Regions from separate parts of the Homo sapiens genome. Here all the other regions are linked to region 2. The links come from fine-mapping of genetic effects on gene expression. A gene starts in region 2. Each other region holds a variant in brackets. All regions are shown on one strand. Distances are between the middles of the regions. Region 1 overlaps NDE1 (nudE neurodevelopment protein 1). Region 2 holds the start of NDE1 (nudE neurodevelopment protein 1). Region 3 overlaps MPV17L-BMERB1 (MPV17L-BMERB1 readthrough). Region 4 overlaps NDE1 (nudE neurodevelopment protein 1).

Region 1 (7,752 bases), 59 kb before region 2:
CCCCAGGGTATCAACTTAGTTCTCTTTTGGGCAGAGTCTTGCTCTGTTGCCCAGGCTGGAGTGCAGTAGCACTATCTCAGCTCACTGCAACCTCTGCCTCCCAGTTCAAGCTATTTTTGGCCTATTTTTATATTTTTAGTAGAGATGGGGTTGCACCATGTTGCCCAGGCTGGTCTTGAACTCCTGATCTTGTGATCCACCCGCCTCAGCCTCCCCACGTGCTGGGATTACAGGCATGGACCACTGCACGGCCTTAGTTGTTTTCATCTCTCCCCAGCGCTAGGTGAGAGGTCTCAACTAATCTTGGCGCTTTAGAATTCCATGTATATCTAATGACTCCTCAGTTCATCTCTGAGAAGCCCTAGCTTCTTCCTAGAACCTCAGACCACCCTCCCGTTCCCACATGGATGTCTAATAGGCAGCTCACACCAAACATGCTGCACCCCAAGTCCTGACTGAAACTCTTCACCCCCAAACTGGCTCCTCTCTCCAGCTCAGCAGCTAAAATGATGAAGTTGCCAACAATTCACATCACAAACCTCGTGGTCCTTCTTAACGTTTTGGTCTCCTTTATACCCCACATCCCATCTATGGGAGAATCTGGTCAACTTTCCCTAAAGAATCCTGCCCAGGCTGGGTGCAGTGGCTCACCCCTTAATCCCAGCACTTTGGGAGGCCAACGCAGGCTGATCACCTGAGGTCAGGAGTTCAAGGCCAGCCTGACCAACATGGTGAAACCCCGTCTCTACTAAAAACACAAAAATTAGCCGGGTATGGTGGGGCGTGCCTGTAATCCCAGCTACTAGGGAGGCTGAGGCAGGAGAATCGCTTGAACCTGGGAGACACAGGTTACAGTGAGCTGAGATCGCACCACTGCACTTCAGCCTGGGTGACAGACCAAAACTCGGTCTCAAAAAAAAAATCTCCAGTGTCTAGGACAGCACCAGGCAGAGTGAACCTTTATCCCTCGGGTCCTAGATATTTTCCCCGCTTCATTCTCATACCACCACAGCCATGTGCTGAGCCTCTTACTACCTTTAATACCAATGACTTGATCTTTTAACAGTTTTAATCATACATGAATATAACGGCAAATAAACATACCTCCTCTATATTTTTAAACCAGCATCACCTCTATCAACTGGTTACGATGAAAGTAATATGATAAAAATAGTATCAAGTTCAATATCTAGCTATTGTGGCCACAACTTGATCACCAAGACCTGAAGCCTACTTCTCCACTAAAAAGGGAGTGACAACAGCCATTAGCACCAAATAGACTCTCTCTGACATCATAATTAGACTTGTTTAAAAAGAGTTGGAAAGGAAATGACTTTCTCAGGGCCCAGTTCAGTTAGCGGATGGCATGCCCGGAAGCCATCTGAAATCACCTCTAGAGTTTGGGGACCACTGCGTGAGACAGGGAAAAGTCCAAACCCCTCTGAGAAGGGGAAGAGAGCAGCTGGCGCAGGGCACCAAGCCTTCAGGGAAAAGCCCCACTCGCTGCATGGTGAGCGCTTGTTGGTCCCCCATGGATAGGAGAGAAACCAGGCCTAGGCTCCCAAAGTACAGCAGGGGCCTGGAAGCATCTCCCAGGGTTGAGGGGTCAGTGGAGGAGAGCTGTTCTCACTGTGAAGACTCCTGGGGCAAAGCGCGGTGGCTCACGCCTGTAATCCCAGCACTTTGGGAGGCTGAGGTGGGCTGATCACCTGAGGTCAGGAGTTCGAGACCAGCCTGGCCAACATGGTGAAACTTCATCTCTACTAAAAACACAAAAATCAGCTAGGCGTGGTGGCAGATGCCTGTAATCCCAGCTACTCGTGAGGCTGAGACAGGACACTCCTTTGCAACCCAGGAGGAGGAGCCTGCAGTGAGCCAAGATCAAGCCTCTATACTCCAGCCTTCAGAGCAAGACTCTGTCTCCAAAAAAAAAACAAAAAACAAAAACCCTCAGATGTGCTCTGCTGGCAACCAGTCCCCCTGCCTCTCCTGAGTGGCTGGGCTGAGCGATGGGGATACAGCCACTCTGACTCCCTACCCCACTGCTGTCTCTGCTTCCCTTTCTCAGGCCCAGTGATTTCTTTTCTTTTTATTATTTATTTTTAGACGGAGTCTAGCTCTGTTGCCAGGCTGGAGTGCAGTGGCGCGATCTCGGCTCACTGCAACCTTTGCCTCCCAGGTTCAAGCGATTCTCCTGCCTCAGCCTCCCAAGTAGCTGAGATTACAGGTGCGTGCCACCACACCTGGCTAATTTTTGTATTTTTAGTAGTGGCAAGGTTTCACCATACTGGCTGGGATGGTCTCGATCTCCTGACCTCGTGATCCACCTGCCTCGGTCTCCCAAAGTGCTGGGGTTACAGGCGTGAGCCACCATGCCCGGCCGGCCCAGTGATTCTTTAGCACACACTGGACACCTCCTGTGGGTTCTGCCCCAGACACTTGAGCCTTCTTGGGCAGCCAAGGGCAAAGTGGAACAAAAAGACCATTTTTGCCAGTTCCGACACGAATACACACATAATGCAGGTGGAAGGTCTGTCCTGCCTTCTGCATCTTTTGGGTGCACAAAAACATAAAATCAGGCACTAGAGCCCTGAGGGAGGTTGGTAAGCATGCCTGGCTCCTCAGCCAAGAAGGAACTGTAGTGCGAGTTTCACCAAGTTCTATCAGCCAGACGCATCTCGACACAAGCCCTCTCTAAAGCCAGACCCACTTACCTACCACTGGCTACACTGCCAGTTACCTCCGGCAAGAGCTGTACAAGGCCTCCACCTCTCCTCTCTTGCTAGAGGCCCGAAAGCTAATGAAGAGCAAGTAATCATAAACCAAGGGACAGGCGGCTGCAGGTTCCTTGCCTGGGACTTCTTGGCTTCTGTTCCAACACTGATTTCTCAAACTAGCTTGCTCAAATGCTTTTACTTCCCTGAACCAGTATGCAATCATGGGATTTATAGGAGGTTCTTAAAAGTAGCTCTAAAGGACAGACATTTTCCTTTCCATTTAAAAAACTGAGCC[G/A]GGTGCAGTGGCTCACACCTGTAATCCCAGCTCTTTGGGAGGCCGAGGTGGGTGGATCACTTGAGGTCAGGAGTTCGAGACCAGCATGGCCAACATGGTGAAACTCCGTCTCTACTAAAAATATGAAAATTAGCCAGCCACGGTGGTGCATGCCTGTAATCCCAGCTACTCGGGAGGCTGAGGCAGGAGAATCGCTTGAACCCGGGAGGTGGAGGTTGCAGTGAGCAGAGATAGATCATGCCAGTGCACTCCATCCTGGGTGACAGAGTATCAAAAAACTGCTTATCCTTTCATCTACCAGCCTCACCAAATGCTCTTGGCGTCAGGTGATTCACTGCAACGTTGACTTAAGGGTGCTTTTAATGCCAGGTGCGGTGGTTCATGCCTGTAATCCCAAATCCCAGCACCTTGGGAGGCCAAGGCAGGAAGATCATTGACATCAGGAGTTGGAGACAAGCCTGACCAACATAGTGCAACCCCATCTGTACTAAAAATACAAAAATTAGCCAAGCACGTGGGGCCTGCCTGTAATCCCAGCTACTCGGGAGGCTGAGACAAGGGGATCACTTGAATCCAGGACGTAGAGGTTGCAGTGAGCCAAGATCGCACCCCTGCACTCCAGCCTGGGTGACAGAGACTATCTCAAAATAAAAAAGAGTGCCTTTAATTATTAAATCGAAGCAAATGTCTTTAACAATTAAGAATATACTTAACCGGGCTCCTTCTTGTTTGCTGATGGTAACCTCCGGGGATTCTCTCTCTGTTTCAGAGGGCCCCCCCCACAGGAAACTTCGCAGTGATGCACCAGGTATCATGCCTTCAGCTTCGCAGCTGTGTGTTGTCTCAGTATCCATTTCTTTTCTGCCCAATGCGCCCCTCTGCCCACCCCAATTTTTAAACCCTTGCACATTTCCACGAGATTCTTGCAAAATCTGGAGGCTTGGATATCTTTGTGCAAAGCTTTCATTGAAACCAAGATCAGGATGACAAATAGACCTCATCTCTTGACCCACTGTCCTTCCTGCCTCTGGGCAGCACATGTGACATGACACCCAACAGTGTGCGCCCTTATCACTGCATCTTGACGAGATGGCAGAGGCTGTGTGTGTAGCTTGGATTTTTCTTCCTTTCATGCCAAAAGCCACTCTTACGTGGTTAGGGCACTCAGCAGTGCTGTCCTCCCTTGTCCAGTGAAGACACTGCACTGAATGAATATGACAGTTCCACTATCTGGGCACATTCCTGGAGAACGTACTTGGCTTCTAGTTGGCTGGTCTGGGTCACAAGTCAGAGATCACAAAGTTCACGGTAACTGCGGCGCGGCAACCAGTCCTCCCATGATTCAGCTTTCACAGGCTTGTCTGCGAAGGAAATGAGCTCACTGCGATGTCTGACAAATGCCGGGGGCTGCACGTGGCTTGAGTGATGTCTAGCTACAAACTGCATTTTCAGCACACGGGGTGGAAGCTGACCACCGCAAAGCCAAGCACAGTCCTGGCAGAGCCTTTTCTGGAGGCTTCACGGGCATGTACATGTTCAGGGACTGGGGAGTGGATACCCAAGACTCAAGGATGCACACAGGGCCCTTCCCAAGAAAGCATGAAGAGGTCTCTGCTGCTCTGGGATTTTGCTTTTTTTTTTTTTTTTTTTTGAGACGGAGTCTCGCTCTGGAGTGCAATGGCGCAATCTTGGCTCACCGCAACCTTTGCCTCCTGGGTTCAAGCGATTCTCCTACCTCAGCCTTCTGAGTAGCTGGGATTACAGGCTCCCGCCACCTCGCCCAGCTAATTTTTGTATTTTTATTAGAGACAGGATATCACCATGTTGGCCAGGCTGGTCTCAAACTCCTGACTTCAGGTGATCCGCGCGCCTTGGCCTCCCCAAATGCTGGGATTACAAGCATGACCAACTTTTCACAGGTGAAGTTAGGCCATGTGGATCTGACTTCACCTCATGGAGAGGCCAAACCAACCCTCATTTGTGTCCATCTTCATTTTTGGAGAATCTCAGCTTTGCTGTCACTACCAAAATACTTAAAGCGCAGGGTGAGGTCTTGTTAAGAGCCAGTTTTGTGGGGGAGCAGATGAGTTTCTAGGACACTTCAAGCAGCTCTCCTACCAGCTGATTGGGATCATAGGATAAGCCAAATTCCAGGGTGGGCTGAAGTGCAGAACCCACTGGTCAGTGGGAAACTGAGTCCTTGCAAACTAGCAGGTGCTTACACTCAAGATGATTCCCGAGGCCTTGGATAAGCTGAGTCCACGAATAGAATCCAAATGCTAGGCCAGGCACAGTGGGTCATGCCTATAATCCCAGCACTTTGGGAGGCCGAGGCGGGCAGATAACTTGAGGTCAGGACCAGCCTGGCCAACATGGTAAAACCCCGTCTCTCCTAAAAATACAAAAATTAGCCAGGAGTGGTGGCATGTCTGTAGTCCCAGTTACTTGGAAGGCTGAGGCAGGAGAATCGCTTGAACCTGGGAGGCAGAGGCTGCAGTGAGCCAAGATCACGCCACTGCACTCCAGCCTGGGCAACACAGCGAGACTCTATTTCAAAAAAAAATTCCAGATTCTCCAGGATCAGACCCTTTAAGAAAACCTTTAGGGGGGTCCCTTAGTTCCTGTAACAGGTATAGTTGGTGTCAACCTTGGTCTAGGATTTGAAACCAGTTCCAAGAAAAGCACTTCAGCCAAAACAGAGTATCTTGCAGGCTGACAGCCAAGCAAGGAGCTTCAACGGCCCAGGGCACAATGTATTTCTTAGGTCAAGGGAGCAAATTTATCCATTAAGCTTTTCCAGTTAGCAAATAGACTCTTCCAAGAGCCAAAAAGAGAGTGCCTAGAGCACTGATGTGGAGGTTAGGGACTACTTCCCAGCTCATCAGATTTTTTTTTGTTTTTTTTTTTGGAGACAGTCTTGCTGTTTCCCAGGCTGGAGTGCAGTGGCACAACGTTGGCTCACTGCAGCCTTCACCTCCTGGGTTCAAGCAATTCTCCTGCCTCAGCCTCCTGAGTGACTGGGATTCCAGGCGCCTGCCACCACGCACGGCTAATTTAGTATATTTAGTAGAGACGGGGTTTCACCATATTGGCCAGGATGGCCTCGAACAACTGACCTCACGAGTGATCTGCCCACCTCGGCCTCCCCAAGTGCTGGGATTACAGGCATGAGTCGCAGCAACTGGCCAACCCATCAGGGTTTGAACCTGGAGTTAAAACTGTGACGAAGAGAGCTGTGTGGGGAGCGTACAGGGAACAGTCAAACTGCTGCTCCTCTGCGCTGAATTTGAGCATCCTTCTGAGTCAAGCGCTTGGAAAACAGTGCTAAAAAAGAAAAAGACTTAAGGGTCACATCTAGAGAGAGAAGGATGGAGAGTTCTCTAGTAGGGCTGCAAGTCCAGAAGCTTCTCTGTGAAGCTGGGCTAGGAGTGTTTACTTTGAAGTGGCTGCAGCTTTAAGTATTTATTCCTGATCGCTGCACTGCGGGAAGTCCCATCCTTTATAGCCAGGTGGGCTTTCCCAGCCGGGGTCTCTCCCATCCTCTGTCAACAAAAGGGTCATTTGCGAATTCCTCTTCTCAGTGATCATGAATCTCTGGGCCTTGATTTTTTTTTTTTTTTTTTTTTGAGACGGAGTCTCACCCTGTCGCCTAGGCTGGAGTGCAGTGGCCACATCTCGGCTCACTGCAAGCTCCGCCTCCTGGGTTCATGTCATTCTCCTGCCTCAGCCTCCCTCCCGAGTAGCTGGGACTACAGGCACCCGCCAGCACGCCCGGCTAATTTTTTGTATTTTTAGTAGAGACACGGTTTCACCATGTTAGCCAGGATGGTCTCGATCTCCTGACCTCATGATCCGCCCGCCTCAGCCTCCCAAAGTGCTGAGATTACAGGTGTGAGCCACCATGCCCAGCCGAGTTGTTCCTTTTGACTAAAGAATTGGTCACTGAGTTGTGTTCATCCTTATGGCTTCTTATCCAACCCTTGCGTGGGGAGCAAAAGTCTGCTCTCTTCTTTGATGTCCTAAAATAAGACCTGTCTTCCGATTCAGGTCAAACAGGGCCAGATGGCCAGAGCCCAACATAATTATTTGTTGCGGTTGCTGAAAAGAGTTAAGTGTTTCTTCTGAACGGTGAAGGCTGGCAGCAGGCAGATCTGATTTTTCCTTCTTCTGCCCACTCTCTTCCTCCTACCCAAAGTCTCCCCTCACGTGACCAGCCCTTCCTGTGAAGTCGAGGTGATAAACTCAAGAGAGAACCAGCGCAGAGAGGAGATGGCAGCATTAAGGAGAGACAGGGGTGTCCTACTGGCTGGAGCTAAAATCCACCTCAGAGGCCAGGTGCACTGGCACACACCTGTAATCCCAACACTTTGAGAGGCTAAGACAGGTGGATCGTTTGAGGCCAGGAGTTCAAGACCAGCCTGGGTCACATGGCAAAATCCCATCTCTGCTAAAAATACAAAAATTAGCCAGGCGTGGCAGTGTGCACGTGCATGTAGTCCCAGCTACTCAATACTGAGGCTCAAGGACTGCTGGAACTCAGGAGGCAGAGGTTGCAGTGAGCCAAGATCATGCCACTGCACTCCAGCCTGGGTGAGAGAGACTCTTAAATTTCTTTTTTAAATCCACCTTGAAGGCCAGGTGTGGTGGCCCACGCCTGTAATGCCAGCGCTTTGGGAGGCCAAGGTAGGAGAACTGCTTGAGCTCAGGAGTTCCAGACCAGCCTGGGCAACAATATCAAGA
Region 2 (7,752 bases):
TAATCCCAGCACTTTGGGAGGGTGAGGCAGGCAGATCACCTGAGGTCAGCAGATAAGAGACCAGCCTGGGCAACATGGTGAAACCCCATCTCTACCAAAAACACAAAAAAATTAGCCAGGTGTGGTGATGCACACCTGTGGTCCCAGCTACTCAGGAGGCTGAGGTGGGAGGATCACTTGAGCATGGGAGGCGGTGGTTGCAGTGAGCCGAGATCGCCCCACAGCACTCCAGCCTGTGTGACAGAGCGAGAACCCGTCTCAAAAAAAAAAAATTGTTTCCACATGCTTTTTTTTTTTTTGCATGTTTTACATGATTAAAGCTAACAAAAAAGTCTGAAAATACACTCGAGACACACACCTCTGATTTTAAAACTCTGGAAAAAAGCAAAGCAATCTCTTTCAGCTTTCCTCTGAGAGAAGAAACCCAGCACTGCTAGTCAGGAGCAATAAACATACAGAAACCATCGATAATTACTCAACACCCTTCTCCATCCCCACTCCATATCCTTCCCAATCAAAACAAACAGAAGAGCAGGAGGGAAGAGAAAGAAGCTGCCAAATGTCCACACATGCTCCGACAGCCAGGACGCAGGCTTTGCATTTTGCAGGAGTGACATCACTGGGGCAACATCAGTCAAGAGTCAGCAAGCCTGGCTTCTGTCTTTGTGCTTTCCAAGTTTACAATGATCAACCTACAAAAATACTTAGGCAGGCAAGGACCCATGTTCAAAGATGCACACCATCATTCACGAATGTGGAAAACTGGAAACCTCAATGTCAACAGAGGACTGAATGGAAAACGATGCAGTTGTTAAGAACTGTAAGTACTAATATGGAAGAAAGCTCAGGATATGTTAAAAATGGGTGCCCATTTTTGTTTATTTCCCTCTCTCTGTACACAGAATAGAAAAGGGTCTGGAGGATGCACCAGAATGGGGGTAAAGCAAGCCCTGTGGATTTGTACCTGACACCTTGCTTTAAGGTAAACTACATACACATATATACAGTAAGCATAGATCGCTTTAGAGATTTTAAAAAGCTTAGGCCAGGCGCGGTGGCTCTCTCCCACCCCGGCACGTTGGGAGGCTGAGGCGGAAGGATCGCTTGAACCCAGGAGTTCGAGACCAGCCTGGGCAACATAGTGAGACCCCAATCTCTACAAAAAATTTTAAAAATTAGCCAAGCATGGTGGCATGTGCTTTTAGTCCCAGCTACTTGGGAGGCTCAGGCAAGAGGATTGCTTGAGCCTGAGAGGTCGAGACTGCAGTGAGCTGTGATTGCATCACTGTGTTCCAGCTTGGGCGACAGAGTGAGATCCCGTCTCAAAAAACAAACAAACAAAAACTTGGACAAAAAGTAAAATAGCTATTGTTCCAGGATAATTTTATTCTACTGAACCAAGTGACAGGGAAAGAATTTTTCCTACTGTGGTTTTGCCTCCTCCAACCCTTTTCAAACATTTCTTGAATACCTACTAAGTGCTGGGCACTGCTGAAGGAGGCAGACAAAAAGCACCCACATCCATTGCACGAGGTGCACGTGTAGTACTAACTGCAGGCACAAACTTTCTGTACACAGGAATGCTCATGTTAGGAAATTACCTTGTGAGGAAAAGGAGTGTCAATTCTCGGCTCACATTCTAAGGCAAAAGAACACACTTTGGGCTGCATGCAGTGGCTCATGCCTGCAAGTAATCTCAGCACTGTGGGAGGCCAAGGCAGGAGGACTGCTTGAGCCCAGGAATTTGAGACCAGCCTGGGCAACAAAGCAAGATTCTGCCTCTACATAAAAAATAATAATAATGATAGAGTCGGGTGCAGTGGCTCATGCCTGTAATCCCAACACTTTGGGAGGCTGAGGTGGGCAGATCACGAGGTCAGAAGTTTGAGACCAGCCTGGCCAATATGGTGAAACCCCATCTCTACTAAGAATTAGCCGGGCATGGTGGCACGCACCTGTAATCCCAGCTACTCAGGAGGGTGAGGCAGAAGAATCACTTGAACCCGGAGGACTGAGGTTGCAGTGAGTCGAGATCATGCCACTGCACTCCAGCCTGGACAAGAACAAGACTCCGTCTCAAAATAAATAAATAAATAAATAATAAATAACACACTTTGGAAACAAAAATAAGTCAAGTTAATAAACTGTTATCCAACATGGGATAAAATATATGAATCACAGGCCCCTGAGACTTCAGCGGCACAGATCATCTGCATTTAATCCTACACAAAACACACACTAAGAGGAAAGGCTCAAAATGGGTTGTAGGCCGGCACGGTGGCTCACGCCTGTAATCCCAGCACTTTGGGAGGCCGAGGGGGCAGATCACGAGGTCAGGAAATCGAGACCATCCTGGCTAACACGGTGAAACCCCATCTCTACTAAAAATACAAAAAATTAGCCAGGCGTGGTGGCACGCACCTGTAGTCCCAGCTACTCCGGAGGCTGAGGCAGGAGAATCGCTTGAACCCGGGAAGCGGAGGTTGCAGTGAGCCAAAATCGCACCACTGCACTCCAACCTGGGCGAGAGTGAGACTCTGTCTCAAAAACAAAAACAAAAAAAAAAAAAAAAAAACGGGTTGTATACCAACGAGGTGATGGAGGCTGGGGTGGTCGGGTAACAAGAGGCTTTAGGAGTAGCTGGGATCTAATTAATCTTCAAAACACCCGACCCATGTCCTAAAATGCCATCCTATGCTAGAATACACTATAACAAAACTAAAAATGATGAACCTGCCTAGGTCGTGCTGCAAAGGCCTTTTCTTTAGAAAGTTAAAAGGGGCCTGAGGCTCAAAGTAGAAATTAAGAGGCACAACCTGGTAGTAACCACGGACAAAGCAATCAAGGAAGCTCAGGCCCTCAGGAGGCAGAAAGCCTGAGATGGCTCGGAGAAGATAAAGTCGCCTCCCCAAAAGCGGTGTCAAGGTGACAGCGGGGTTTCCCAGGACCTCAGAGACTCAGGTCCTCAGTGAGCCCAGCCATCACTCAAGCTGCGGAATAAGCATTTTCGTCCTTTACCCAATCCCTCCCCAAAGTGCTGTCAGAAGAAACCTGAACCGTCCTGCGGCAGAGACGGGAGCAAAGCGGAGAGCAGACTGCCCCAAACGTGTTCCCGGAGGGAGGGAGCAGGGTGGGTTTTTGGAAAGAGGCCTGCAGGGGCGGGACAGTGGGTGTGAGGGCAGGGGCAACGCTGCAATCGAGGGGTCTGGGGTCGCAGAGAAGCGGGTGGCAGGATGGAGGAATAGGAGAGAGAGAGAAAAGAAACGAGGGTCATCTAGGAGAGGAGTATGGGGAGGAAGGAAGAGGAGAAAGAGGATGGAGCCTGGCAGCGGGGTTTGGGGACCGGCAAGGCTTAACCACCCAGGAAGTCCCGGAAGGAGAAGAGGGCAACGGGGTGGGAGAGAGACCAACGCAGAAAGAGAAACAAAGTTGCCAAGGGCGAGGGGCCAGCGCGAGGAACGCACCGGTGGCAAGGCACTCAGTGCCTAACTTTTTAGGACGGGAGGCTCCAGGGAGGCGGGATTTTGGAGCCCAGGGACCGGGGGAGTCCAGGCGGCCGGGAAGCGACGCGCAAGCGAGGGGCGTAGGGGTCCCTGCCAGGCGGTGGCCCGGGGTCCCGGGATCCTGGGGCGGGGCAGAGGAGCTTTTCAGCCGCGGTGGAGGTCCCCGGACAGCCACCCCGACCCCAGCCCCGCGCAGCGCCTCACTTACCCGAGCAGGGGCGGCGAGGCCAACGCGGCGGCGGCGGCAGAGGCGGCTGCGAAGGGCGGTGCGGCCCCGGCCCTCCGGACCCCGCCCCCGCCCCGGAGCCTGCGGTCGGCGCCTCCCATTGGCTGCTGCTCTACGGTACCGCGTCCGCCTCGGCCAATCAGCGCAGAGCAGCGTCGTTTGGAAACTTTTTTCCCAGGCCGGGCGCGGCGCGGCCAAGCGGCGAAGGCTCCTGGCCGGAGGGGGTTTGAGAGGCGCCGGCTGCCGGGCGCTGGGCTGCGGCGGGCTGGCGGGCATTGGAGATGCTGCAGAACGCTGCCTGGACACCCGGGAAACGGGTTTGGGCTTGCGGGCCGCGCATTTCAGGAAAATACGCCGGCCTCTCCTTCACTTCGATTGCATTTTCCCATTCTTGCACTTTCTCCAAATCAGAAGGAAAGACAAAGATTCAGGCCCACTGAAGCTAGCAGTGCCCCGTGCCCTTCCTACTCCTTTACACCAAAAGTAGAATCTTCAGCATCATTATCTTCTCCAGAAGCAGGAGAACGTAGTGCACCAGAATTTGGTCATAAACTTGGCTTTGAGTCCTAGTCCTGCCCCTTACTAACTGTGTGGTCTTGGGAAAGTTGTTTAGCCTCTATGACTCCGTTTCCCCATCTATAAAACGCCATTATGGGTCTGGCGCGGTGGTCACGCCTGTAATCCCAGCACTTTGGGAGGCCAAGGCGGGTGGATCACGAGGTCAGGAGTTCAAGACCAGCCTGGCACATGGTGAAACCCCGTCTCTACTAAAGATACAAAAAATTAGCCGGATGTGGTGGCACGCACCTGTAATCCCAGCTACTCAGGAGGCTGAGGCAGGAGAATCACGGGAAACCGGGAGGTGGCGGTTGCAGTGAGCCGAGATCACACCACTGCACTCTAGCCTAGGCGACAGGGCAAGACTCCGTCTTAAAGAACAGACAAACAAACAAACGACATTATGCAGAGGACTAAATGACTTAACAGCATTTGTAAAAACGTTTAGAACAGAAATTTGAACTTAGTAAGTACAATATATGTATTTGTTAAATGATCTTGATTTTGTTTATTTATTTATTTTGAGATGAAATCTCCCTCTGTCTCCCAGGCTGGAATGCAGTGGCGTGATCTCCACTCACTGCAACCTCTGCCTTCTGAGTTCAAGCAATTCTCCTGCTTCAGCCTCCCGAGTAGCTGGGATCACAGGCCCGCATCACCACACCCGGCTAATTTTTATATTTTTAGTAGAGACGGGGTTTCACCATGTTGGCCAGGCTGCTCTCGAATCCCTGTCCTCAGGTGATCCACCCACCTCGGCCTCCCAAAGTCCTGGGATTACAGGCGTGAGCCACCACACACTGCCTGAAGATCGTGATTTTTAAATGGCTGTGTGTGCCAGGCACAATTCTCACAGCAACCCTAATTGTTCACTAACAAATTAAAATTAAAAAATAATTTTTTTCTTTTCGAGACAGAGTTTCCCTCTTGTTGCCCAGGCTGGCGTGCAATGGTGCGATCTCGGCTCACTGCAACCTCTGCCTCCCAGATTCAAGCGATTTTCTTGTCTTAGTCTCCCTAGTAGCTGGGATTACAGGCGCCCACCATTACGCCCAGCTAATTTTTTGTATTTTTAGTAGAGACACGGTTTCACTGTGTTGGCCAGGCTGGTCTCGAACTCCTGACCTCAAGCAATACACCTCAGTCTCCCAAAGTGCTGGGATTACAGGCGTGAGCCATGTAACTCAGAAGGCAGAGGTTGCGGTGAGTGGAGATCACGCCACTGCATTCCAGCCTGGGAGACAGAGGGAGACTTCATCTCAAAATAAATAAATAAATAAAATCAAGCCACCATGCTTGGCTGGAATTTCTTTTTTTCTTTATTTTCTTCTAAAACATCCTGTCATAACATGTTCATTAACAAATACCGAACATTCTGGTTAGTGGGTACAAAAATAGAGTTAGAATGAATAAGATCTAGTATTTGGGAGCACAGCAGGGTGACTACAGTCCACAACAATGTATTGTACATTTTAAAATAACTAAAGGAGTATAATTGGAGTGCTTGTAACACAAAGAAAGGATAAATGCTTGAGGTCATGGACACCCATTTACCCTGATGTGATTATGATGCATTGCATGCCTGTTATCAAAATATCTCATGTACCCCATAAATATAAACACCTACAGTGTACCCATAAAAACTAAAAATATATATATTATTATCCAGCTTTTTTTTTTTTTTGTGAGACAGAGTCTCACCCTGTGACATAGGCTGGAGTGCAGTGGCATAATCAAAGCTCACTGCATCCTGGACCTCCCAGGCTCAAGTGATCCTCCCACCTCATCCTCCGGAGTAGCTAGGACCACAGGTGTGCACCAACACGCCCAGCTAATTTTTACATTTTTTTGTAGAGACGTGGATCTCACTATGTTGCCCAGGCTGGTCTTGAACTCCTGGGCTCAAGTGATCCTCCTGCCTCAGCCTCCCTCCCAAAGTGCTGGGATTATAGGCATGAACCACAGCACCCGGCATTATGAGCATTCTTCTGTACAATGCACCCTTACAGCACAGTGAATACAGTCAGACAAAGTACCTGTCCTCAAAGGGCTTATATTGTTAAGAGAGAAACATACTAAATCTATAAGCAGAAAAAGTAACGTCATTTCAGATACTGATAAGTGCTATGACTAAGGCAAGCCCATTTGATACAACGGGCTGGGAGGGGTCACTTCAGATGCTATAGTCAGGGAAGGCCACTGTAGAGAGGAGACCATGCAACTGAACCACAGGTGATGAACCACAGGAAAGCATTAAATTGTATCCATGTTAAAGATAAGAAAATAAAGGTGCAGGAAGTTAATTGAGTTGTCCGAGGTCTTACAACTAGTAATTAACAAATCAGGCTTCAGAGCTGGCTCTGACTCCTAAACCCTCCTTCTTCAGCACTATGCTAGAGGCAAAGAGATCTTAGCTATTACAGGATCTCCCACCCCATCTTGCCTTCCTGCTATCCTACAACAGCCTTTCTCAAATTCTACTTTGAACTCCTTGCTAATTCCTAAAAACTGCTTAGAGGCACAAAGGGGAACCCCACCACCTATCAACAGGTTTAAGGAAAGTACCAAATGTCTTTCAGGAAACTTCCCAAACATTAATGAATCATTTACATGCTGCTTCACACTTTACTACGTCTGATGCCTTCCCCCTTGGAATTTTATTTTATTTCGAGACAGAGTTTCACTCTGTTGCCCAGGCTAGAGTGCAGTGCTGCAATCTCGGCTCACTGCAACCTCCACCTCCCGGGTTCAAGCGATTCTCCTGCCTCAGCCTTTCGACTAGCTGGGATTACAGGTGTTCACCACCATGCCCACCTAATTTTTCTATTTTAGTAGAGGCAGGGTTTCACCATGTTGGCCAGGCTGGTTTTGAACTCCTGACCTCAAGTGCTCCACCCGCCTCAGCCTCCAAAAGTGCTGGGATTACAGGCATGAGCCACCACACCAAGCCTCCCCTTAGGAATTTTATTACTTATTTACTTATTCATTAAGATGGAATCTCACTCTGTCGCCCAGGCTAGAGTGCAGTGGTGCGATCTCGGCTCATTGTAACCTCCACCTTCCAGTTCAAGCGATTCTCCTGCCTCAGCCTACCAAGTAGCTGGTATTAACCCCCCTTGGATTTTTTTTTTCTTTTTTTTGACGGAGTCTCGTTCTGTTGCCCAGGCTGGAGTGCAGTGGCACGATCTCGGCTCACCGCAACCTCTTCCTCCTGGGTTCAAGCGATTCTCCTGCCTCAGATTCCTGAGTAGCTGGGATTTCAGGTGTGCACCACCACGTCCAGCTAATTTTGTAGTTTTAGTAGACACAGGGTTTCACCATGTTGGTTTGGCCAGGCTGGTCTCGAACTCCTGACCTCAAGTGATCCACCTGCCTCGGCCTCCCAAAGTGCTGGGATTACAGGCGTGAGCCACTGCGCCTGGCCCCCCTCGGAATTTTATTTGGCCCTAACCACTCTGTGACGTT
Region 3 (7,752 bases), 79 kb after region 2:
GCAATTCTCCTGCCTCAGTCTCCCGAGTAGCTGGAAGTACAGGCAGGCGCCACCACACGCGGCTAATTTTTGTAATTTTAGTAGAGACGGGGGTCTCGCCATGTTGGCCAGGCTGGTCTCCAACTCTTGGCCTCAAGCAATCTGCCCACTTCGGCCTCCCAGGGTGCTGGGATTATACGCGTGAGCCACTGCACCTGGCCTTGACCCCCGATTTTTAAACAAAGCTTCTCTTCCTTAACCAATTGCAAATTAGAAAATCTTTCAATCTACCTATGACCTGTGAGCCCCAGCTTCAACGTATGCAGCCCTTTTAGGCCAAAATTGATATGTAATCTCAATGTATTGATTTACAATTTTGCCTGTAACTTCTGCTTGACTGAAATTTACCCCTGCCTTTAAAAACCTGCACTGAAATCGCCATTGCAAAATTATAAGAGACAGTGAAAGAGATCTGACCTAATCAACTCCATCTTGCTTCTAACCTCCAAGCTGTCCTTGTTCATTACTGGGCATAGGCTGAACTAACTATGGGAGGAACTTACTTTATCATTTAAAACAAAGACGATAACAGCCTTTTCCCAAAACAAACTCCCTTCTTGCCTGGGAACTAGACTGCATTTGTAGGTGATACGGTTAGGCTTTGTGTCGCCACCCAAAACTCATCTTGAATTATAATCCCCATCATCCCCACGTGTCAAAGGAGAGACCAGGTGGAGGTGACTGAATCACGCAGGCAGTTTCCCCATGCTGTTCTCGTGATAGTGAGCGAGTTCCCATGAGATCTGATGGTTTTATAAGGGTTGGGCAGTTCCTCCTGCGTTCATTCTCCTTCCTGTCACCTTGTGAAGAGAGTGCCTTGCTTCTCCTTCACCTTCCACCATGATTGTAAGTTTCCTGAGGCTTCCCCAGCTATGCCGAACTGTGAGTCAATGAAACCTCTTTCCTTTATACCCAGTCTTGGGCAGTTCTTGACAGCAGTGTGAAAATGGACTTAACAAATTAACCAGAAGATTAGGAATTATGATAGTGAGTGAGTTCCATGAGATCTGATGGTTTTATAAGGGTTGGGCAGTTCCTCCTGCGTTCATTCTCCTTCCTGTCACCTTGTGAAGAGAGTGCCTTGCTTCTCCTTGACCTTCCACCATGATTGTAAGTTTCCTGAGGCTTCCCCAGCTATGCCGAACTGTGAGTCAATGAAACCTCTTTCCGTTATACCCAGTCTTGGGCAGTTCTTGACAGCAGTGTGAAAATGGACTTAACAAATTAAGCACAAGATTAGGAATTATGGTTTAGGAATCATGCAGCTGGAGGCTACAAGATGCTGACCCTCCCCAGATTACTCCTGAAGATAACACCACTATTGTAAAAACCAAGATCAATGCTTGAGGTATTTTGCAGACCGTGCACTTGATGGGTCAGTGGGTACCACCCAGATAAAGTGGCTCATCTGACCTTGTGGCCCCAACCCAGGAACTGACTCAGTGCAAGAGGACAGCTTCGGCTCCCTGTGATTTCATCTCCGACCCAACCAATCAGCACTCCATTCTCACTGCACCCCCACCCCCATCCACCAAATCGTCTTTAAAAACTCTGATCCTGGAATGCTCAGGGGCACTGATTTGAGGAATAATAAAACTCCAGTCTCCCTCAGCCGGCTATGCATGAATTACTCTTTCTCTATTGTAATTCCCCAGTCTTGATAAGTCAGGTTTGTCTAGGCAGAGGGCAAGGTGAACCTGTTGGACAGAACATTACCTATAAGCCATTGAGGAGGTCAGGCTTGAAGCATTAGCTGCCCAGTCCTCCTGGCTTGGAGCCTTGCAAATAAACTGTTTCCTTTTTACCACTGCAAAAACTCTGGGGAGACAGCTGGTCTTACTGTGCCAGGAAAGCAGACCCTAGTTGTATTAGTCCATTTTCACGCTGCTGATAAAAACATACCCGCAACTGGGTAATTTATAAAGAAAAAGAGGTTTAATGGACTCACAGTTCCACGTGGCTGGGGAGGCCTCACAATCACGGCAGAAGGCAAAAGGCACGTCTTACTTGGCAGCAGGCAGCACAGAAAATGAGAATCAAGCGAAAGGGGAAACCCCTTATAAAACCATCAGCTCTCATGAGACTTCTTCACTACCATGAGAATAGTATGGGGGAAACTGTCCCCCATGATTCAATCATCTCCTACTGGGTCCCTCCCACAACACACGGGGATTATAGGAGCTACAATTCAAGATGAGATTTGGGTGGGAACACAGCCAAACCATATCACAAGTTGAGTTCTATTACAATGCCAGAGTCCAAAGCCAACAATGCCAGATCAATTGCATTGGGGTTTCTAGTGGGTGGAGAATAGACTTTGGTACTTTTCCCTCATTCCTTCGTTGTTTTATGTTTGACATTTAACTTTTTTTGGTAACAGCTTTATTGCAATATGATTCACATACCATGCAGTTCATCTGTTCCAAGTGTATTTGCAGAGTTGTGCAACCATCACCACAATCCATTTTAGAACATTTTAATCACCCCCAGAAGAAACCCCATACCCACTAGCTGTCGCTCTCTTTCAACTAGGAAAGTCTATTCACTCGTTTATCCTTAGGGCCTACACAGTGCTGGGCACCTAGTAAATGCTCACGAAAGCTAGAGGATTCAGTTCTACTGTCATTGCGCACACTACCCTTACAACAAGACTGTGTGGAAGACTCCTACACCTTGCCTTTGTTATTTATGGGATATTCACAACAACCATGCGGGGGGTAGTATTATTGGCCTCATTTTCCCAACAAGGAATTCAAGGCTCAGAGAAATTAAGTCGCGAACTTTCACGAAGTTCACCTGCCTGCTAAGGCTGAATTCAAACCCAGATTGCTGCACTCTAATTACTAAAGTAGTAGTTCTTATGTGGGAGCTGTAAGCTGCAAAGTGTCTGAGAAGGTCTCAATCAATCTGGAGGTTTATTTTGCCAAAGTCGAGGAGGCACCTGGGAAAAAGAGACACAGGCAGCAATAGGATCCCCGGCCTGTGCTTTTTTCTGCAGAGGATCTTAAGGACTTCAATATTTAAAGGGGAAAGAGAGGGCAGGAAGGGGAGGATTGCATTCTCTGGCCCTCAGTGAATTTGCATTTTACATAGGATAAAGGAAACGCGGAGTAGAGGAGGAAGTCAAATGTGCATTTGTCTCCGGGTGGGCGGAGGGACGATGATTTATAGTCTTGTCTTAGTCCCCTACCTGTTAGGATAAGCTGTTAATTTACATTGACAGGGTGAGGGAGGCCCCTGGGAAGATAGGTGGCCTTTCTATCTTGCAGCTATCTGTTTAGGAAAAAAAGAAAGGCAGTTTTGGCTGGGTGTGGTGGCTCACACCTGTAATCCTAGCACTTTGGGAGGCTTGAGGTGGGTGGATCATGAGGTCAGGAGATCGAGACCATCCTGGCTAACACGGTGAAACCCCACCTCTACTAAAAATACAAAAAATTAGCCGGGCGTGGTGGCAGGTGCCTACAGGCTCCCAGCTACTCGGGAGACTGAGGCTGAGGCATGAACCCGGGAGGCGGAACTTGCTGTGAGCAGAGATCGCGCCACTGCACTCCAGCCTGGGGGACAGAGCGAGACTCCGTCTCAAAAAAAAAAAAAAAAGTAGGTTTTTGTATGACTCATAGTTCCCAAGCTTAACTTTTCCTTTTGGTATAGTGAATTGGGGTCCTGGGACTTTATTTTCCTTTCATAGGGCAATGTTGCACACCCCCCTGACCTCGCTTGGGGTACATTCAGCAACATCTGTACATCTATAGACATTTTTGGTTGTCACTGTCAGAAGGGTTTGAACTACAGTGACTCCATCTTGAATAGGGGCTGGGTAAAATAAGGCTGAGACCTACTGGGCTGAATGCCCAGGAGGTTAGGCATTCTAAGTCACAAGATGAGATAGGAGGTCGGCACAAGATACAGGTCACAAAGACCTTCCTGATAAAACAGCATTAGTAAAGAAGGCTGCCAAAACCCACCAAAGCCAAGATGGCGATGAAAGTGACCTCTGGTCGTCCTCACTACTCATTATATGCTAATTATAAGGTATTAGCATGCTAAGAGGTACTCCCATCAGTGCCATGACAGTTTACAAATGTCATGGCAACATCAGGAAGTTACCCTACATGGTCTAAAAAGGGGAGGAACCCTCAGTTGTGGGAATTGCCCACCCCTTTCCCAGAAAACTCATGAATAATCTACCCCTTGTTTAGCATATAATCAAGAAATAGCTATAAGTACAATCAATCGAGGAGCCCAAGCTGCTACCCTGCCTACAGAGTAGCCATTCTTTTATTCCTTTGCTTTCTTAATAAACTTGCTTTCACTTTACGGACTCGCCCTAAATTCTTTCTTGCTCTTGGTCCAAGAACTTTGGGGTCTGGATCAGGATCCCTTTCAGGTAACATCACCATTGAGGGGTAGCGGAGAGGTACGTTGTGCTAATGGCCTGTAGTGGGTAGAGGCCAGGGATGAAACTCAACATCCCACAAGA[C/T]ACAACACAGAGCCCCGTACCCCCAACAAAAAATGATCAACCCCAAAGGAAGATACTGACATTTGTCAACCCCAAATGTCAATAGTTGAAGGTTGGGAAACGCTGCTCTAAGGCTCATCATGCTGCACTTGTAGCTCAGTAAGAACTGCCACTTATGGGCACCCACTGTGTGCTGGGCCCAGTCTCTTTCTGCTAACCTGGGGGCTCCTTGAGAGTGGAGAACCGTTCTCTGTTCATCACTGCAAGCCCGGCTCCTAGGTTCAGAGCTTGCTGCAGAACAGCCTCTTGGGACATAGTTATTGAACTGACAGCATGGCAAAAACATTCAAGTCAAGGGTAATGGTGGGTGCTTATCTGGCCTATTTGAAAACACCTTTGCAAAAATGATAACAGTGAGAAAATTAGGACAGTGAAAGGGATCTGATCTAACCAACCCCCATCTTGCCTTTAACCTCCAAGCTGCCCTTAATCATTCCCAGGTTTAGGCCATGCTAGCTTTGGGAGACATTTAGTTTATAGTTTAAATGATTATAACCTTTTCCACCAACTAAACTGCCTTTGTAAAGCTAATAAAAGGCCCCCATGTTAGAAGGATGGGAGGAGGCTGAATTCTGCTAAGGTGTAGACATAAATGACTACTGCCATTATTCCAGAGGTCACAAGATTTGCAACTTCCCCAATTACTCCTGCAGATAACATCACTATTGCAGAATCTAAGATCAGCCTTTTGAGATATCTCTTTAGGTTTTGCATTTCTGATGAATGATGATCCACGTGGACCTGCCACCCAGAAGTGGACTTAGCACCCCTGAGAATCATTTTTCACACACCTATGATTGCATCCCCAACCAATCAGCAGCATCCATTCTGATATAGTTTGGATGTGTGTCCCCGCCCAAATCTCATATTGAAATGTAATACCCAGTGTTGGAGGCGTGGCCTGATGAGAGGTGATTGGATCATGATGGAGGTTTCTCATGATGGTTTAGCCCCATCCTCCTTGGTACTGTCCTTGTGATAGTGAGTTCTCATGAGATTTGGTCTTTTAAAAGTGTGTGGCACCTCCCGCCTCACTCTCTTGCTCCTGCTCTGGGCACGTGACATGTCTGCTCCCTTGTCTTCCGCCATGATTATAAGTTTCCTGAGGCCTTCCAGCAGCTGAGCAGACACCAGCATCATGCTTCTGGTACAGCCTGCAGGACTGTGAGCCAATTAAACTTATTTTCTTTATAAATTACTCAGTTCTCTCTTTCTTTTTTTTGAGTCGGAGTCTCGCTCTGTCACCCAGGCTGAAGTGCAGTGGTGAGATCTCACCTCACTGCAACCTCCACCTCCTGGGTTCAAGCAATTCTCCCACCTCAGCCTCCTGAGTAGCTGGAATTACAGGCACCCGCCACCACCCCTGGCTAATTTTCATATTTTTACTAGAGATGGGGTTTCACCATGTTTGCCAGGCTGTTCTCAAACTCCTGAACTCAAGTGATCTGCCCTCTCAGCCTCCTAAACTGCTGGGATTACAGGCGTGAGCCACCATGCCTGGCCTGGGACTAGCATTTTGATAAGGGTAAGCCCCACAGAGGGCAACTAACACAGCCTGATGGGCAGGGGAAAATTTTTTGGAGAAGATGCCAAATAAGTCAGGCATTATTAACTACCAAATCTGGGGTGACTTCAAAGTTAGAGTTTGTACACACTTCATCTGTTCCCAAGTAGGATAATAATGGTCATAATTGCTAATATTTACTGGACTCTTGAGGCCAAATATCAAGCTAAGCACTTAGTTTGCATCATCTCATCGATTTTTATGATATTTAATTTAATTTAATTATATATTTTTTTGAGACAGTGTCTCGCTGTGTTGCCCAGGCTGGAGTGCAATGGCACAATCTCAGCTCACTGCAACCTCCACCTCCCAAGCTCAAGTGATTCTCCTGCCTCAGCCTGCCGGTTACCTGGGATTACAGGTGTGTGCCACCACACCTGGCTAATTTTTGTATTTTTAGTAGAGATGGGGTTTTGCCATGTTGGCCAGGCTGGCCTCAAACTCCTGACCTCAAGTAAGCCACCCATCTCAGCCTCCTAAAGTGCTGGGATTACAGGCATTAGCCACCGTGCCCAGCCTCTTTAGGATATTTATACTCAATGAATTAGACCCTCTTACTATTACTAGCCAATTTTCAGAGGAGGAGAAATTGAGTCTCAGAGAAGTACAGTGACTTGTCCAAGGACAAGAAGGTGACCAGAATTCACTAGGACTTGAACCCAGGTCTTCCTGACTCGAAGTTGTGTTTGACACATGCAGTCAGGGAGCACTGCATTGCAAGAATGAGGCTCTGTCTTCCAGACCCAGGCGTACAGATGGGCCAGGCTGGGGGCCCCCAAGCACCTGTTTAGCACAAGGTGAAGTTGCAAATGGTTACCTGGGATGGCGACCAAGTTCTGCAGCTCCTGCTTCAAGTCCATGATGTCCTTGCAGAGCTGGATGTCATCCATCCTGGGGAAACAGGACACCATCAACAGCAGGTTACATCAGCAGAGCATTACGCCCTGAGCATCACCCGGTTAACACAAAGAAGCTATTAAAGGTGGGTTATCTTTTGAAGAGGCCATACATGCTCATTGTAGAGGTTTTCCCTCAAAAGGAAAAAGCCAAACACTGCTCAATTATCCCACCACCTAGAAATGATCACTGTTTTTTGTTTGTTTGTTTGTTTGTGACAGAGTCTCACTCTGTTGCCCAGGCTGGAGTGCAGTGGCATGATCTCGGCTCACCGCAACCTCCACCTTCCGGGTTCAAGCGATTCTCCTGCCTCAGCCTCCCAAGTAACTGGGATTATAGGTGCCTGCCACCATGCCCAGCTAACTTTTTTTGTATTTTTAGTAGTATTTTTAGTAGAGACAGGGTTTCACCATGGTGGCCAGGCTGGTCTTAAACTCCTGGCCTCAAGTGATCTGCACACCTCAGCCTCCCAAAGTGCTGGGATTACAGGCATAAGCCGCGGTGCCTGGCCATCAGTCACTGTTAATAACACCTCGATAGAGCTCCTTCCAGTCTTCATGTGCCTGACTTAGGTTTGCTTATATAAGTGGGTTCATATGGCATATTCAGTTTCGTTTTTCAGCTAAAGTTTACGTTTTTTAAACACTGCAGAAATTCACAACATAGAGGAAAGTCTCCCTCTGTCCTTCGGAGAGAATCATTGTCAACGGTTTAGTATGTATTCCTCTGGATT
Region 4 (7,752 bases), 42 kb before region 2:
TTGGGAGCTGCCTGGAAAAAGATCACGGCTCACTGCAGCCTCAACCAATCCTTCCACCTCAGCCTCCTGAATAGCTAGGACTATGCACAATCATGCTTGGCTTAAAAAAAAAAAAAAAATTCTTTTTTAATTACAAAAAATTTTTTAAAATGGGAGCTTTCTGGAAAAATCACTAACCTACCAATTATCCAACTCCGCTTGTAGGAAGTAGGAAATCCACTTCTGGAATCCTTCACCCTTTGGTTTACCTTGTTAAACCTCTGCAGAATGGCAAGAAGTTTGGTAAGGACTTGGTCTGGCTACAACAGACCCTGAGGAAACCAAAAGGACACTGACAGCACCCCAGGCTTCTCTATACTCCAACTAGGCTAAATACTGAAATGCAGACCTGCTTCTAGAATAGCAAACCAGACAGCCAAAAACCAGAAGTAAAAACAAAAGAAATGAGTTGCAAGCTTCTATTAAGTTGTAGCTACAAATACACTGTGTACAGTGACAACTTGGTAGGAGTTAAATTATGTGGCCTTCTAGGCATCATTTTTAAAAATAAACTACAAAGAATACCTATGTTTTTACTTAAGCACAAAAGGATCCCTCCCTGTAATTAACATAAAAGCTGAAAGGCCAAATTCTTTGCCCTAGGCTTTCAAGATTTTTTTTTTTTTTTTTTTTGAGACCAAGTCTCACTTTGTCACCCAGCGGTGCGATCTCAGCTCACTGCAACCTCCGCCTCCCGGATTCAAACAATTTTCCTGCATAAGCCTCTCAAGTAGCTGGGATCGCAGGTGCCCACCACCATTCCTGGCTAATTTTTGTATTTTTAGTAGAGATGGGGTTTCACCATGTTGGCCAGGCTGGTCTTGAATTCCTGACTTCAGGTGATCCACCCATCTCGGTCTCCCAAAGTGTCAAAATTCACTTAAACCCCAAGAAACAAACCAAAAAAAAAAAAAAAAAAAAAAAAGGTGGCAGTTTTTTTCTCTTCTGAGACAACGTCGTGCTGTCACCCAGGATGGAGTGCAGTGTTGGAATCTCAGCTCACTCAGCCTCAACCTCCCAGGCTGAAGCAATCCTCCCACCTCTCAGCCTCCTGAGTAGCTGGGACCACCAGTGTACACCATCAGGCCTGGCTAATTTTTGCATTCTTGTAGAGGCCAAGTCGGGGCAGGGGGTTTCACCATGTTGCCCGGGCTGGTGTCAGACTCCTGAGCTCAAGTAATCTCCCACCTTGGCCTCCCAAAGCACTGGGATTACAGGTATGAGCACCCGGCCAAAAGAGAAGGCAGTTTCCAAGTGCTCCTTAATTTTTCGAGTTAAGGAAAAAACACACATATCACCCTAATTTCCCAAATTTCCTAGAGGAAAAACGGTAAAAGGAAAGAGACATACATAGGGTTCAGAGCAGGGCTTCGAGTCAGAGCTCTGAGTGTCTGGCAGTAACTCCCACAGGAAGCTCTAATGATTCCCAGGGATGCTAAAGGAGCAGCCACACCTAAAACTCACCACACTGCTATGAAAGGGGCTGGACGCATTGGCTCATGCCTGTAATCCCAGAACTTTGGGAGGCCAACCTGGGAGGATCACTTGAGGCCAGGAGTTTAAGACCAGCCTGGGCAACACAGCGATACCCACATTACTACAAAAAAATGAAAGTATCAGCCAGGCATAGTGGCGCACACCTGTGGTCCAAGCTCCTCGGGAAGCTAAGGTGAGAGGATCGCTTGAACCCAGGATTTTGAGGCTGCAGTGAGTTGTGATCATACCACTACACTCCAGCCTGAGCAACAGAGCAAGACCCTGTCTCTAAAAAAAAAGAAAAAAAGAAGAGAGGGAAGGAACTAGATCAACCCCCTTCACACATCCTGAAAGACAGGCAGGAAGGCACCAAACGCCAGGAAAGTGTGGTCTTACCCCGACTTTCCGCAGTAGGTCTCCCACAATGTTGAGGGCTGATATCCGGGCCGCAGGTGTGAGGGGGGTCCCCCCGGTGGAGTCGTCCAGGCCTGGGTGTGCAAAGGGAAGAGCATGTAACTCACCAACCTATAGTCATGTCTGTGCGTTAACATCGCTAGATCCAAAACCACGGGACAGGAGGGACACTGACGCCTTTCCTCGGATCCCAAAAGCTACCCTATTTCTTTCCGTAGTTAACCGCATCACACACCCAAGGCCCGTATGACAACCAATTTTTCAAGTCCTTGTGATGACTGCAACAAATACTTATTTTTACATGTTAGTCTTGCTCTGTCACCCGGACTGGAGTGCGGTGATGTGATCTCAGCTCACTGCAACCTCCGCCTCCCAGGTTCAAGCGATTCTCCTGCCTTGGCCTCTTGAGTAGCTGGGATTATAGCCATGTGCCACCACACCCGGCTAATTTTTGTATTTTTAGTAGAGACAGAGTTCCATCACGTTGTCCAGGCTGGTCTCGAACTCTTGACCTCAAATGATCTGCCCGCCTTGGCCTCCAAAAGTGCTGGGATTACGGGCGTGAGCCACCATGCCTGGCCTTTAACAAATTTTTTTTTTAATAGAGACAGGGTCTCACTATGTTGCCCAGGCTGATCATGAACTCCTAGTTTCAAGCGATCCTCCCACCTTGGCCGCCCAAAGGGCTGGTATTTACAGGCATGAGCCACCGTGCCCAGCCACATTAGTCTTTTTAAACAAACCCAAAACAAATCCTTTTGAAATTGTAGAAAATCCATATAGTTAATTAACATAATGGCATCTGTGATAGATACAAGAACTATAGACAGGATGATCCAGCTTTACAAGGGTCCCGCTCTGCAGAGCCTCTCTTCTCCAAGTGGGGTCCATGCACCAGCAGCACATGAGAACTGTTAGAAATGCAGAATCTCTCGGCCAGGCACAGTAGCTCACACCTGTAATCCCAGTGCTTTCAGAGGCCGAGGCAGTTCGATCAGTTGAGGTCAGGAGTTCAAGACCAGCCTGGCCAACATGGCAAAATCTTGTTTCTACTAAAAATACAAAATTAGCTGGGCATGGTAACAGGTGCCTGCCTGTAATCCCAGCTACTCGGGAGGCTGAGGCATGAGAATCGCTTGAATCCAGGAGGCAGAGGCTGCAGTGAGCCAAGATCAATGCCGCTGCACTCCAGCCTGGCCGACAGAGCAAGACTTTGTCTCAAAAAAAAAAAAAAAGAGAGAAAGAAATTTCAGGCCCCACCCAAGACCCACTTGATCTGAGGTACATTCTACCAAGATCCCCAGGTAAGCTACATGCATATTGAAGTGTGGAAACATAGCCAGGCATGGAGTTGCATGCCTCTAGTCCCAGCTACTCAGGAGGCTGAGGCAGGAGGATCACTGGAGCCCAGGAGTTGGAGGCTGCAGTGAGCTATGATTGCACCACTGCACTCCAGCCTGGGCCACAGACCAAGACTGTGTCTCTAAAAACAACAATGAAATAAAGTATGCAAAATGGCTCTAGACTGGGGCTAGGCACAGTGACTCATACATGTAATACCACCACTTTCAGGGGCTGAGGCAGGCAGATCACCTGAGGTCAGTAGTTTGAGACCAGCCCGGCCAACATGGTGAAACCCCATCTCTACTAAAAATACAAGATTAGCCAGGCATGGTGGTGGGCACCTGTAATTCAAGCTTACTCAGGAGGCTGAGGCAGGAGAATCACTTGAACCTGGGAGGAGGGGGTTACAGCGAGCCAATATCGCACCATTGCACTCCAGCCTGGGCAACAGAGCAAAACTCCATCTCAACAAAACTAAACAGAAGGGCTCTGCACCGGAATTCTAGAAGTCTCACTGGTCTCTTCATGCCCAGGGGACAAGCTAAGGGATAAGGTAGTAGATGGTAGGGTAAGCCCTGGAGCCTGCCTGCCTGGGTCTGAATCCCAAACCATCTGCCATTCAATTGCTTCATGACTCTGCTTAACTCAGAGCCTCACTTTCATCAAACGGGGACAGCACCTGCATCCTGGGCCTGCGGCGAAGGCTGCAGGCTGGCCAGCACACACTGAGCACTCCTTAACTGTCTGTTATTAATATCTGCTGTAAAAGGCCTGATCGGAAGCTGTCAGCAGAGGGGCTGGGGTGAGAACTGAGATTCTTTTTTTCTGCCCATGCAGCACACGTTACGCTGAGTCTAGCTCTCGGTGGATGTATTACTAAACCCACAGAACGCTTTTTACTTTTTTGTATTTGGTCAGTGACATTTCAAATTTGGGAGGTTTTATATTCAACAAGAGGATTTTTGACCAGGCGCGGTGGCTCACACCTGTAATCCCAGCACTTTGGGATCAGCCGAGGTGGGCGGATCACTTGAGTCCAGGAATTTGATACCAGCCTGGGCGACATGGCAAGACTGTGTCTCCACCTAAAATACAAAAGTTAGCCAG[G/A]TGCCTTTAGTCCCAGCTACTCCGGAGGATGAGGTGGGAGAATCACTTGAGCCCACGATGAAGAGGTTGCAGTGAGCCAAGATCACGTCACTACACTCCAGCCTGGGCAACAGAGTGAGATCCTGTCTCAAAAAAAAAAACCCAACAAAAAAAAAGAGGATTTCTGGCTTTGAAGAATGGAAAAAGCTGCAGATGAAGGGCCAATCCTCGTAGCTGCAGAGTGGCAGCCACCCGCTCTGGGTGGGGTTTCCATTTCATCAGACTCCACTACTGCCTCTTACCCAGTCCTCACTGATCTCAATGCCCATCCCCAAGAACATCCCAGTCTACTCTCTGCTCAAAGCCTGAGAGCAAATCAGGCTCTGAGCCTGATGCAAATCATCACACCCCCAGGACCCACCCCAGATTCTTACCCAGAAACACTTTGTGAACCGAGAAAATCCTGCAATTCCCACTCCCCTTACCACGTCTGAAGCTCCCAGGTGTGTTTAAACTTGAGCTGGGTCCTCGGTGAGCAATGGGCGTGGACGGCACGGAGCCCGTGGCCTGCACAGCTGTGTCTGTCCTCTCAGCTTCCACTGAGCTGGGCATGGGGGTCCTGGGTTTCTCCTGCTTCTGCTGCACGGCCAGTTCCTGCCGCAAATCTGTGCCAGAAAAAGGATTCAGGAATTCAAGTCCTCAGCCAGGCGCAGTGGCTCATGTTTATAATGCCAGCACTTTGGGAGGCCAAGGCAGGTGGATCGCCTGAGGTCAGGAGTTCGAGACCAGCCTGACCAACATGGTGAAACCTCATCTCTATTGAAAATACAAAAATTAGCCCAGCATGGTAGTAGGCACCTGTAATCTCAGCTACTCAGGAGGATGAGGCATGAGAATCATTTGAACCTGGGAGGCCAGGGTGGCAGTGAGCTGAGATTGCTCCAGCGCACTCCAGTCTGGGTGACAAGAGCAAGACTACGTCTCAAAAAACAAAAAGGGAATTTAAGTCCTTGCTTAGGGTTGGTGGGGTGCAGGGAGAGAGGTTCAACAGTAGATACCAGTCAGAAAAAAGACCTACTGGGGTGAAACACTCCAGGTAGAAACCCCAAATAAAGGGAAACCCACAGGACCTTGCCTAGCAGACTTGGAACTCTACAGGATGTTTCTCTTGACTAACAAAATGGTTTCAGATTTTTAAAAAGCTATGACAGTGACACACTAATGCTTTTATTATTGAAAAAACAATTCCAACATAGCAGTGTATTTAGAACACTAAATGAAAATATGCCCGGGAGCAGTGACTCATGCCTGTAATCCCAGCACTTTGGGAGGCTGAGGTGTAAGAATCACATTAATCCAGTAAGTCGAGGCTGCAGTAAGCCATGATCATACCACTTCAGCCTGGGCGAGAGTGAGACCTCTGGCTCAAAAAAAAAAAAAAAAAAAAAAAAAAAAGAAAAAAAAAAAAAAAGGCCAGTTGCACTGGCTCAAGCCTATAATCCCAGCACTCTGAGAGGTCGAGATGGGAGGATTGCTTGAGGTCAGGAATTTTCAGGCCAACATGGCAAAACCCCGTCTCTATTAAAAATACAAAAAATTAGCCATGCGTGGTGGTGAGCGCCTGTAGTCCCAGCTGCTTGGGAGGCTGAGGCAAGACAATCGCTTGAGCCTGGGGGACAAGCAGTGAGTGCAGTGAGCTGAGATCACGCCACTGCACTCCAGCCTGTGTGACAGAGCAAGACTGTCTCAAAAATAAATAAAGTATGCTTTCCAGACTATCCCCAAATGCTCCTCCTCACTCATCATCACCATAACATGTGGGAGAGCTTTTCAACCATTGTTCTCTGAATTTTTTTTTTTTTTTTTTTTTGAGATGGAGTTTCACTCTCTTGCCCGGGCTTAAGTGCAGTGGCACAGTCTCGGCTCACTGTAAATCTGCCTCCCGGGTTCAAGTGATTCTCCTGCCTCAGCCTCCCAAGTAGCTGGGATTACAGGCACGCACCACCACACCTGGCTAATTTTTGTATTTTTAGTAGACACAGGGTTTCACCATGTTGTCCAGGCTGGACTCTAACTCCTGACCTCAGGTGATCCACCCACCTTGGCCTCCCAAAGTGCTGGGAATACAGGCGTGAGCCACTGCGCCCAGCTGTTCTCTCCATTTTCAAACATAAACTTTATACATATGTATGTATCTACTGAGCATAAAACAAGAAAATTTTTTATTAAGCATTACTGGAAACATACAATATGTTGTCCTGTGTATGACTTACTCTCCCCACTTCAGTGGTATGTCTTGGCAATGATTTTTGTTTTAGAGACAGGGTCTGACTCAGTCACCCAGGCTGGGGTGCGGTGGCACAATCATAGCTCAATGTAACCTTGAACTCCTGGGCTCAAGTCATCCTCCCACTTCAGCCTCCTAAGTAGCTGGAACTACAGACATATGCCACCAGGCCTAATTTTTACAATTTTCATTTTTGTAGAGATGGGGTATCACTATGTTGTCCAGGCTCATCTTGAACTCCTAGGCTCAAGCAATCCTCTTGCGTCCGTCTCTCAAAGCACTGAGATTACAGGCATCAGCCACTGTGCCTAGCCTTGGCAATCTTTCTACCACAACATTTCTATCTACTGTTCATTTTAACCATTAACATTTCACAAAATACATCTATGTACTTCATTTAACCACTTCATTACTGATGGACATCTAGGAACAACTACTTTATTAAACTTAAGAATTTTTACTTTTTATCCCCCACCTACTGGTTACACATTAGAAAGCAAATCGACGTTATAAATAATTAATTGGGCCAGCAACAGTGACCCACCCCTATAATCCCAGCACTTTGGGAGGCCGAGGCAGGCAGATCGCCTGGGGTCAGGAGTTCAAGACCAGCCTGGCCAACATGGTGAAACCCCATCTCTATTAAAAATATAAAAATTAGCCAGGCATGGTGGTGCACACCTGCAGTCCCAGCTACTCAGGAGGCTGAAGCAGGGGAATCGCTGAACCTGGGAGGCAGAGGTTGCAGTGAGCAGAGATAGCACCACTGCACTCCAGCCTGGACAACAGAGCAAGACGCCATCTCAAAAAAAAAAAAAAAAAAAAAAAAAAAGGTAAAAACAACTTGGACAATCCACTAATGAATGTCTTTTTTTTTTTTTTTTTTTTGAGACAAGAGTCTCACTCTGTCACCCAGGCTGGAGTGCAATGGTGTAATTTTGGCTCACTACAACCTCCACCTCCCAGGTTCAAGCAATTCTCGTGCCTCAGCCTCCTGAGCAGCTGGGATTGCAGGCACCCACCACCATACCCTCATGTTTTCTATTTTTAGTAGAGATGGGGTTTCTCTATGTTGTCCAGGCTGGTCTCAAACTCCTGAGCTCAGG

Evidence for each region. PIP is the estimated chance that this variant, and not a neighbour inherited with it, causes the effect.
Region 1: its variant is fine-mapped to the expression of NDE1 in whole blood (INTERVAL, PIP 0.97).
Region 3: its variant is fine-mapped to the expression of NDE1 in whole blood (INTERVAL, PIP 0.97).
Region 4: its variant is fine-mapped to the expression of NDE1 in whole blood (TOPMed, PIP above 0.99).

Annotation. Positions count from the first base shown.
Region 1 is chr16:15,704,871-15,712,622 of GRCh38, reverse strand. All of the region lies in intron 8 of NDE1 (nudE neurodevelopment protein 1), which reads right to left. All of the region lies in intron 40 of MYH11 (myosin heavy chain 11), which reads left to right. Among named protein-coding and RNA genes, the nearest start is that of NDE1, 59 kb to the right of the region's middle. The variant G/A (reference allele first, on the strand shown) is at 3,013.
Region 2 is chr16:15,646,254-15,654,005 of GRCh38, reverse strand. It overlaps NDE1 (nudE neurodevelopment protein 1), which reads right to left and starts at 3,761. Exons shown (of 9, transcript NM_017668.3): 1 at 3,712-3,761. RefSeq lists a silencer at 400-694 and enhancers at 3,059-3,558, 3,559-4,060.
Region 3 is chr16:15,567,244-15,574,995 of GRCh38, reverse strand. It overlaps MPV17L-BMERB1 (MPV17L-BMERB1 readthrough), which reads right to left. Exons shown (of 6, transcript NM_001414674.1): 3 at 6,940-7,013. It overlaps BMERB1 (bMERB domain containing 1), which reads right to left. Exons shown (of 6, transcript NM_033201.3): 3 at 6,940-7,013. Among named protein-coding and RNA genes, the nearest start is that of MIR6506, 40 kb to the left of the region's middle. The variant C/T (reference allele first, on the strand shown) is at 4,520.
Region 4 is chr16:15,688,416-15,696,167 of GRCh38, reverse strand. It overlaps NDE1 (nudE neurodevelopment protein 1), which reads right to left. Exons shown (of 9, transcript NM_017668.3): 6 at 4,845-5,024; 7 at 1,912-2,003. Among named protein-coding and RNA genes, the nearest start is that of NDE1, 42 kb to the right of the region's middle. The variant G/A (reference allele first, on the strand shown) is at 4,381.